Regions from separate parts of the Homo sapiens genome. Here region 2 is linked to region 1. The links come from fine-mapping of genetic effects on gene expression. Tissue or cell type: whole blood. Region 1 holds a variant in brackets; the other region holds the start of a gene. All regions are shown on one strand. Distances are between the middles of the regions.

Region 1 (5,370 bases):
ATATTTTTTAAAAATCTAAAAGGGGGAGGATAAATTCTGTTAAAAGTGAAACTTGGATAGGAGATAATACTAGTAGGAACACTTAACCATTTTAAATAACAAAAATGGCTCAAGTGTGTCTGCAACTGAAGTCTGAGAAGCACTTTTACACAAACATTCTCCTGTATGAGCATCTCAGCATCTGTGGAAATACTCTGCATAGGGATTATAATCTCCATTTGGAAGAGGAGAAGACCAAAGCTCAAGGTTGAGTGATTTGCTGTTGGTCTCATTGATAAAAAGCTGTCATAGAGCCAGACTTGAACCCAGCCTGCAGCTCCAAATTAAATGCTCACTTAGATCCAGCACTGATAAGACATCCAAACAAGCAGCTTGTGAGAAACTGGGGATAAAAACAGAGGCCTTAAAACCTGAGCAAATGTCTTGATTCCAAACAGAAGACTCTACAGTGATAACCAGTAAGCTCATTGTCAATCCCAGGAGAATTCAGCCGTACGTCAGTACACAGTGTGTGAGCAACGAGAAAGCAGGATGATCAAACAGTGCATGGGACAAGCTTAGCTCAGTGCCTGGCACAGGCTGGGACTCAGCAAATGTGAGGACCATTAGTATCACTATTGGCATTGTTTCTTATTATTAGGAATTAGCATGAGATTTCTTGGAATAAACCGATCCAAGCTAATCTTGTTTCTTTTTTTAAACAGGGTTATTGGACAAACAGACTAGGAAAATGCTAAAGATATGGTACCCTGGATTTCAGCAAGCCCCTTGACAAAAATCTCATCTGCTACACTGACACAATGGTAGATTGAACCCCTGTCAGAGTCTGTGCCATTTGAACAATCATTCCCAAATTATATGGATTACTGAATAACAACTAAATTCAGGCTGGGCGCAGTGGCTCACATCTTTAATCCCAAGCACTTTGGGAAGCGGAGGTGAGAGGATCACTTGAGCTCAGGAGTTCGAGACCAGCCTGGGCAACATGGCAAAACCTCATCTATACAAGAAATAAAACTAAAAAAATTAGCTGGGCATAGTGGAATGTGCCTGTATTCCCAGCTACTAGGGAGGCTGGGGTGGATCCCTGGAGTCCAGGAGGTCAAGGCTGCAGTGGGCTGTGATCTCACCACTGCACTCCAGCCTGCATGACAGAGTGAAACCCTAGCTCAACAAAAAACACTAAATTCAAATACTGACTTTGCTATTTAGAGCCTGTGTGACCTTGAGCAACTTATTTTACCTCTCTGTGGCTCTGCTTTCTTATTAGTAAGATCATGATAATGATAGCAATCACCTCAAAATACCAGTGACTATATCAAAAAACTTATCCACCACGATCAAGTCGGCTTTATCCCTGGGATGCCAGGCTGGTTCAACATACGCAAATGAATAAACATAATCCATCACAAAAACAGAACCAATGACAAAAACCACATGATTATCTCAATAGATGCAGAAAAGGCCTTTGATAAATTCTACATCCCTTCATGCTAAAAACTCTCAATAAACTAGGTATTGATGGAACGCATCTCAAAATAATAAGAGCTATTTATGTCAAACCCATAGCCAATATCACACTGAATGGGCAAAAACTGGAAGCATTCCCTTTGAAAACTGGCACGAGACAAGGATGCTCTCTCTCACTACTCCTATTCAACATAGTATTGGAAGTTCTGGCCAGGGCAATCAGGCAAGAGAAAGAAATAAAGGGTATTCACATAGGAAGAGAGGAAGCCAAGTTGTCTCTGTTTGCAGATGACATAATTGTATATTTAGAAAACCCCATCATCGCAGCCCAAAAACTCCTTAAACTGATAAGCAACTTCAGTAAAGTCTCAGAATACAAAATCAATGTGCAAAAATCACAAGCATTCCTATACACCAATAATAGACAAGCAGAGAGCCGAATCATGAATGAACTCCCAATTCACAATCGCTACAAAAAGAATAAGATACCTAGGAATACAGCTAACAAGGGATGTGAAGGACCTCTTCAAGGAGAACTACAAACCACTGCTCAAGGAAATAAGAAAGTACACGAACAAATGGAAAAAACATTCCATCTTCATGGATAGGAAGAATCAATATCGTAAAAATGGCCATACTGCCCAAAGTAATTTCTAGATTCAATGCTATTCCCAATGCTATACCATTGACATTCTTCACAGAATTAGAAAAAAACTACTTTAAATTTCATATGGAATTAAAGAAGACCCTGTATAGCCAAGACAATCCTAAGCAAAAAGAACAAAGCTGGAGGCATCATGCTACCTGATTTCAAACTATACTACAAGGCTACAGTAACCGAAACACCATGGTACTGGGTATCGAAACAGATATACAGACCAATGGAACAGAACAGAGACCTCAGAAATAACACCAAAATATCCATGTCCCTGCAAAGGGGCCTGTTAGGGGGTGGGGGCGAGGGGAGGGAATTTAGAGGATGGGTCAATAGGTGCAGCAAGCCACCATGGCACACGTATACCTATGTAACAAACCTGCACGTTCTGCACATGTATCCCAGAACTTAAAGTAAAATAATAAATATATAATGATTTTAAAAAATGTTTAGAGCAGCTTTATTCATAATCACCCCAAACTGGAAAACATCAAATGTCCTTCCATTGCTGAATAAATAAACAAACTGTAGCACATCCATACAATGGAATGGAACACTCTAAGGAAAAAAAAAAAGATCAGTGATTAATTGGTTAGACAAGTAGATAGTTGGATATAAAAACAGAAAAAAAAAGCTATGAATACTATTATAATTTCCACCTGCAGGGAGGCCTCTAGAGTTTTGCCACGGCATTCCATCATCATTTCTGTCCATTTCAACGTGTTTCTCAACAGCTTAGATGACAAAATCAAAAAAGTACAAATGTAGAGCCCAGCATCAGCTGCTCATATGTAAAAGATCTGGGAACGACAGAGAATCACAGCCTT[T/C]GTATCAGCCAAGGGTGTGAGGAGGGGGCTACAAAATCATCTCAGACTGTTCACAAACATGGGTGTCACCCTAAAGTCCTCTGCATTGGTCAGACCAGTCGAGTACTGTGGTTCATTCTGGGTGTTATATTTTAAGAGCAATATGGAGAAATATAGGGGATGGGGAAATAACAAGGGGTCTTGAAATAATGTCAGAAGTAGCTGAGAAAAGTATGAATGTTTTGTTGGGTGGCAAGTGGTTGTCACTTTGATGAAAGCTTACACTGCTTTCCTTCTTGGCATAACTTGAGTCAGTGAATCAAATTAGAAGGGGCCAGAATTTTGCCAAAAAAATGAAAGGATGCAAGGAAAGGAGGGGGGAAGGAAAGATGGAGAGAATGAGGGAGGAACGAAAGAAGTGAGGGAGAGAGGAGAAAATGTAAAACCTATTCAACAATGGAGTGGTGTGCCTTGCCCGGTAGTGAGCTCCCCATCACAAGGAGAGTCCAAGCAGAAGCTTGGTGACCAGCTGTCAGGGATGTTGTTGAAGGTGTTGATGAACTGGACGATCTGAAGGGCCTCTGGCCTTCTGTTGTCCTCAGAGTCTATTATCCCAGCCACTCTCCCCTGCACAGAGCTTTTTCGCACACCCCTTCCCCCACCAAGGTTGCTGTGGAGCTCCTAATCCCATGAGCGCCTGCCAAAATTTGGCCTGTGAGATGCATATTCAACAATGAAGGTTTCAGCTGGCTGAGCTGGCGGGTCTGTCTGAAGATTTCAACACCGCAGCAAGTGACCCTCTGGAATCCTAAACAAACTGTCAAAAGCTTCAGCAGCCTGGGCTCCAAGCAGCCTGCATTGAGGACCTCAGCTGCACAGGCCAAACGCTGCATCACCACCCCACCAACCACCCACCATCACCATGGCAACCACTGAGTCTGACTGCCTAGGCGAGGCTCTTCAATCCAAGCAGGGGGAGGCCCAGTTTTTCCTGCAATTTCCCAAAGTAGTGGGCCCTAAGGGGATGCAGGTGGGAGGACCAGAGAGGGAGAGTTTACCTTGTCCTTCCCCAACAGGATGCCCTGACACCACCTGGAGACACAGCCTGTCATCTATAACTTGACCTTGGCATCCTCTAACTCTAAGCAAAACACAGGAGAACGAGCCACTGGGGAATCTCATTATTTTTAGAAGCAAGCACAATCACTTAGCAACCTAAATGTCCCGTTTCTTCCCCACCCCTCCAAAAGCCCAGAGAAATAAATACAGTATTGAGGACTCCAGTGTTTGGCGCTGATACAGCGTAAGGATGTAATAATAATAATACTTTCAATCTATGTAGAAATAAAGCTTGCCTTCCAAGGGGCTCAGAGCCTTGCTAAAATTAAGGCACCGATCCTTTACACTCGGCCTCCCCTCCCTCTCAGTACAAACTGCCCAAAGATGACTGTTTCCCTGCTATCTGACAAGGGACTTTACATATGGATTCTGAGACACGGAACAATCATGATTCCATTCCAGTACATTACTGTCTGCTACCAAAAAAAAAAAGCATTTATTTCTAGCAAGGGAACAGAAAAAGGTCAGGGCTTCTCAAACAAATGCCAGCAGTGAATTCCTCCCTCACATTTGAACCTGGTAACCATTCCCTTCTGGAAACTCTTTCTCCCTCATTTCCCTGCTAATGGTCTCAACCAATCTGCCCCCACCCCTCCTGCCAGCTCCCTCTCAGCCTCCATCCCAGGCCCTCCATATTTTCCATACCCATTTGATTCAGGGCCTCTTGGAGTCTGTCCTTGCCCTCTTCTCTGCCATTTCACTGGGACAATCTGACCCATGTCTATGGTTTCAACTACCAACCATGCAGTGATGAATCGAGGTGTCCACACAGACCTGTCCCAAGCTCCAGCCTTTCTATAGGGCACCACACCCAGTCCAAAAGACACACCCAACCGCCAAAGCCAGAGCCACCCTCATCCCCTCTCCATACCAGACTGCTCCTCATCCAGGGTGAAAAAAGCCACCCTCCCCTACACTTGGGATTCATCTTGGATTCTTCCCTCTCATCCCCCAAGTTTAAAGACCCCTAAGTATTTTTTGTATCTGTCCCCTCCTCTGGTCCCACTGACACAGCCCAGGTCACAGCCCTCAGTATATTCTAGACAGTAAAGATGGTGTCCTAACTAGTCATCCTAGCTCAGCCTCACCCCTTCCTCCCTAATTACCCCCAACACACACATGTACCACCATGGCAAGATTCCAAGGCTCTGAGTGCTGGGAGGTCTATGTAGCCAGGATTCTACCACCCCCTCACTTTAAGCCTCTTAATGGCCCTCTATTGTCTTCACAGTAGAATCCAGAAGTGTCACCGCAGTACACAGACCTAGAGCTCCTGCCTGCCTGTTCACCCCCACTCTCCGCCATGCTCCACTCCACGCC
Region 2 (5,370 bases), 69 kb after region 1:
AGAAAACGTGAAAAAAGGTGACCACGTGGTGTAGGAAACGTGCCTGGTTTCTCAGCTCCAAGGCTGGGCCCGGCCAGAAGTACCCGAGGTGCTGAACCCGGGTAACTGGGGAGCCCCGGGCCGCCGGGAGTTTCAGCGGCGCTGTCCGAGGTGCCAACGATGGCTGCTGGCACACTTTGCCACCCGCGGGGCGGTTGGGCGGCTTTGTCTACCGCAAAGAAACGGGAGGGCGCCTGTCTGAATAAACACGCCCCTAAGAGAGGGGCACAGCAAGGCAGCACCTGGTGGATGGGAAGATTTAGAGAACCGTAGAAGCCGAGTGAGAAAGGAGGGCCCAGCTGGGAAATCCGTAGACTGCCTAGAGGAATATTTGCAGCCGCAGCACACAACACAATGAGATCTGTCCGCTTTGTGCAGCGCACCGGCAGGCGTGACTGCAGGGACCCGACCCCTCCCCCGCCCGAAACCTCCACCCTAGCTAGATACGTTCAACTCAGGCAATGGATGGCCTGGGATCACTCTGTGAGAGTGGAGCAGGGGAGCGGGATGCAGAGAGGAGAGAGGGAGAAGCCCAGCCGGGGTTGCTGTGGGAGGATGCGAACAGCAGCAGGAAGAATATCTGCTTAGAGATGCTCCTTCGTTTCTAATGAGGGGGTGCTGCCTAGAAGCACCACGCGCCAGCCAATCACCGAGCTGCTGAGGCAGGGAACTAGAGAAGAAGGGGAAGGCCAGAGACTGGGGTTGGGGGAGTAGGGAGATGCCCAGGCCCTGGGGGAAATGAGCCGCGTGTCTGGCTAATACTAGAGACCCAAGGCAGCTCCAGCTGCCTCACTGCTGCACACCTGGACGGTGGGGGTGGGAAAGAGGGAGAATAGGGGAGAAAAGAAGGGGCCTCCATTGCAGATGCATCCCTCCCAAATCTCCCTCCCAAAGTCCCATGTCTCCAACCCCATCCCCATATTTAACGCCAGACCACTAGCTTGCCTCCTACTAATCCCCTTCACTGCCTCACCACCCCCAATTCCCAATGGCCTTGCCAGGCGTCCAATCCTTAGTGAAGAACAAGGCAGTGAGCTGCCTAATCAGCAGTCTGCATTTGGTGCACTTGATTAAACCTGCAAAGAAGCTCCTTCCATGCCTGTTCACCCTGACACCACCACCATCAGAGATGGCCCCCACCAGTGCTTTGGGGAGAGCAGTTCCTTTGGAGCTAGGGAGAGAGAGACTGCATGCACACCTCTGGCCTCAGCGGATGAATTCAGGCCCAGCCGATCCACCTGGATCCTGGATACTGGGAGAGCAATCAGCTGGGTCAAGCACTAAGAAGCAAGAGTACCCAACCAAGGACCAAGGACAGGATGGGCCTGATGAGCTGCTCTTTCTTGGCTGAGAGGAGAACTCCAAGTTTGAGCTCCTTGGGCTGTGGCAACAGAGATCACCTCCCCTGACAGACACTCACTCATGCCACTTTCAGTGGAACTTAAACTTAAGTCCCTAGAGTTAGCTGAGTCCCCACCCAAAAGCCTGTTTTATTTATTCATTTGTCTATCTGTACACAGGGTTTTGGCCCTGGGAACTTCTGAACTGATAAATCCCCTCATGGAGCCTTGACTTCCCTACAGGAAGACAGTGCGGTGTCTCCTGGTTGGTGGGGATACGGGCAGAGTGGCTGGCTTAAAGAAAGGAAAATGAGAATTAATTATGAAAGGAAGCATTGGGGCAACCCAATCTATGTAGAGGGCGGCATGTGAAGGGAGTAGGGGTGGGGAGGGGGCTGGGAATCAGACAAAGCCCAGCCCAGAAAGGGATGCACCCAGGGACACTAAAGATTTCCACATAGGAAAAATAAAAAACCAAAAGTCTTACCTTGAAAAACACTAGTGCCCAAACGGGTCTCCACGGCACCAAGCTTGCCCCTTAGATGCACCGAAGAGTGTGCTTCAGCAAAGGGGCAAATTGGCACCAGGAAGGGGTGGGGGATACATTCCATGCTAGGTACCCCCCTTCACCCGAAGAAATGCAAAGGGGGAGAGGGAGTTATGGTGGGCAAGAAAGGATATGGCCAATCGATGAGCTTCTTGGCATATTTCCTGACAATGTTATCTTCTCCGAAGATGAACAGGGATCTGTTGACGGTGAAACAGTTCTGCCGGACGGGAATGGGGTTGTACAAAGCCATAGTCCGCGCCCTCTGTGCTTTCGTCTGCTTGTAGGCGGCCGCCTGCCCCGAGGCCGGCACGGGGGTTCCTTGCCGGTTCCTGCTCTGGTCCGAGTCTCCATCGCCGGACCCTGGCCTGGCGACCACCGCCTCCCCGAAGCGAGCCATCCTGAGGTTTAAACAGACAGAAGACACACAAAGGTGATCGCGGCCGAACACCCGCACACAGCAACAAGCAGAAAGACACACGGAGACTCAGAGCCGCATCCAGACAAGCACGGGGACCACCGCCTCTGGGGAGCTCCGCGAGCTCTTCGGAGAGGCAGCAGCAGCAGCCCGCCGCTGTGAACTGTTGAATCTAAATGCAACCTCTGCGAAGCTCCATTCCTCAAGAAGGAAAAAAAAAAAAAAGAAAAAAGAAAAAAAAAGCGGGTGGTAGGGCTTGGGGGTGCCCAGTTTCTGGAGGAAAATATTTTTTTCAAAATGCCAGTGTGTGGTGGTGTTCAGGGACCAGAGAGGAGAGGGGTGGAGTAGGCTGCTCTTCAAACATAGCTCCTCTTCTGGCAGACGCACCACCTAGTTCAGGGAGAGAGGCAGGCACCGGCCCGCTAGGTAACAGTTTGGTGATTTATTGGTTGGGGGAAGGGGTGGGAAGGAGGGGAAAATGAAAACAAAAGAACTTTAAAAAAAAATAAACAAAGACGAGGACGGGGTTACGATGACATGCTTTATAACGCCAGCCCCTGCAAGTCCATCTAAGAAATTCCACCGCGAAGACTTGGGTCTTTATATCTGCCAGCAGAGACGCATCCAAAGGTTGGAGAAAGAGGGAGGGAGGTGGGGAGAGCGATATTGAGGTTCCTGCGTAAACCGCAATGCCCAAAATCTCAAAATAAGAAGTCGATCCAAGCGAAAAGGGACAAATGACTTCAAAGCTCCTGCGCTTGGGCTAGAAGTTGAGCAGCATCCAGAGAGCAGCGAAGCCTGAGTGCCAGCATCCGCCCGGAGCGCTCGCCACCGCCGCCTCCCCGGATCAGCATGCAACAGCGATCCGCGGCTGCGCCGCCGAGAGGGCGGGAGTGCGAGCGGGCGGGCGGCGAGCACCGGCGGGCGAGGAACAGGTTGCAGCCGAGCCTCGCGGCGGCCTGGCACCACACTTGTCCACAGACCGAACTTCCTCACTAACGGCTCAGTCTCCCTCTTCCCCGCAGGCAGCGCCCTCGGCGGAGCACTGGAGAAGATGCGGAAGGAGAATGGGGAGGCGAGGCAGAGGACAGCGAGCGGCGCGCAGAGGCGCAGCGAGGCGCGCAAGAGCGCTGGGAGAAGCGGGGGAGGAGCTGGCCAGGCGGGAGGGGCGGGGACGCAGCCGGAAGGCTGGAGGTTCCTGGAAGGTGAGGCTGGCTTGCCTTCTTGATTTATGTGGCCAAAGGGTAGCAGCCACCTCTGCAAAGGTCCAGTGAAGAGTCCCCTTTCCCCCAAGTAATGCCGAGAAGAGAGAGGCAGGTGCAGCCAGCGATGCGGCGGAGTCTCCGCAAGAGAGCGAGGGCCTGGCGTGGGGCGCACACGCACGCGCGTCTTGGGTCCCTGCAGAGAGGTGTCCCCAGTGCTGTGCCCTGTTCGGTGCCGGGAGCGGTGCCACGGGCCCGCCGCCGCCCTAGTAAGGTGTCGGGGCCTTTGCGCGCCTAGCGCCATGGCCGCGTCGCCGCTCCTCCGCACCTCCCAGGCTCCACGAACACGGCCAGGCATTTCCAAGTAGAGGGCAGAACCCTCTCCCCATCTCCCCACTTAGCACCTGGGAGGCCCCGTGGAGGAGGCTAGGACCTCTGGGGGTTCCACACTCTGCTGGTGGTGCTGGCTCCTGGCGGGAGCTTCTGCCCTCACGGGGCGGCCTCCCGGTTCCGCTGTAGGAAAGCCCTGCCCGACGTCTCCTGGAAGGGCCCTCCATGGTGAGTTATGGGCTAAAACTACCCTTCTCGAAATGCGAACAATCAGAAGGATCCTCCCGCCCCCCATCCTTTACTCCCAAATAAGCTCCACGGACTTTCTCAAACCCAACCCATTAATGTAGAAAAAAAAAAAAATAGAATTGGTATCTGAGCTGCAGAGGTGGGAAAGGTGGACTCCAAGCCCCAGGGAAAGAGCTCCTGTTTAGCCGCCAAGCCCTTCCCCACAGGTGACTGGTGGTTTGAACTGAGGGCAGGGACCAGCTGTCCCCTCCCATGTCCACACTAGCTGGGGCACACCGTCTTCTGTGTTTTCCTGCCTTGGCTCAACACATAGGCCTCTCCAAATCCTTCCAACCCGAACAATGGAAGGGAAGAAGGAAAGGAGGGGCTGAGGAAGGAAACAGACACTGACCAAAGCCCAGAGGTTGGAAACCATGGGTGAGTATGGCTTCACGCCTGTGAAGTGAGATTAACTGTTGAGAAGTGAGGTGATGTCTGAGTGCATGGCATGTGTGTTTCTACGGGTATGTGTCTGTCTGTGGGCAAGGCCCTGTGAGCACTGACATGTGTCTGTTGTGTGAGAATGTATGTGAGAGTGTGTGTGTGTGTGTGTGTGTGTGTGTGTGTGTGTAGGAAAATTCTCTACTGGAAATCCAAAGGAATGGTCTCAACATGTCCAGCCTGCTGCCCTTGGGGAAGGCATTTGACCTTTGGATTCAGGGGAGCCCATTTCAGGTGAAATTACTATTCAAGGTGAGTCAGCTGTAATTGTTACTTTGATTTCACATTACTGCCTTACTCTGTCCTTCCTCCTGCTTTAATCAGAGGGTCCTCTTCTGTCTGAATACCTAGTCAGTCGTGAAACGGAGGGAGGGTGGTGCTGTGAACCATGAAGTCCCATCAGCCAGTCACTTAGAACTAGTCCCAAGTGGCTATCTCGGTATCCCTGTAAACTACATAGGGTTAGAAAAAGGGCTTTCAGAAATTATTAAGTGTATGTCGCTCCTTTCAGACAGTACCATAATCCATAGCACAAAATTCATTCAAATCATTAGAGAAGTATCTTTGAGTCCCTTCCAGGTGCCAGGCACTGTTTTAGGCACTGAGGATACTATAATGAACAAGATGGGTGATGACATAAATCATGTAGCTTTTTACACTAGATTATACTAGATTGTATAACCTTGCAGGCCAGAAAGCTTCATGAACTTCACTCTCATGCTGTCACCTCACCCCTTTCCTTTGTGGTTCTGCCTCAGCAGGCTG

The links. PIP is the estimated chance that this variant, and not a neighbour inherited with it, causes the effect.
Region 2: CACNA1E starts here. The variant in region 1 is fine-mapped to the expression of CACNA1E in whole blood (TOPMed, PIP above 0.99).

What each region holds. Positions count from the first base shown.
Region 1 is chr1:181,549,830-181,555,199 of GRCh38, reverse strand. The region is part of intron 3 of CACNA1E (calcium voltage-gated channel subunit alpha1 E); the gene reads right to left. Among named protein-coding and RNA genes, the nearest start is that of CACNA1E, 69 kb to the right of the region's middle. The variant T/C (reference allele first, on the strand shown) is at 2,953.
Region 2 is chr1:181,480,701-181,486,070 of GRCh38, reverse strand. It overlaps CACNA1E (calcium voltage-gated channel subunit alpha1 E), which reads right to left and starts at 2,554. Exons shown (of 48, transcript NM_001205293.3): 1 at 2,061-2,554. The coding sequence starts at 2,326. RefSeq lists enhancers at 707-836, 1,799-2,322, 2,323-2,847, 3,650-3,779, 3,831-4,363 and silencers at 3,200-3,329, 3,370-3,499.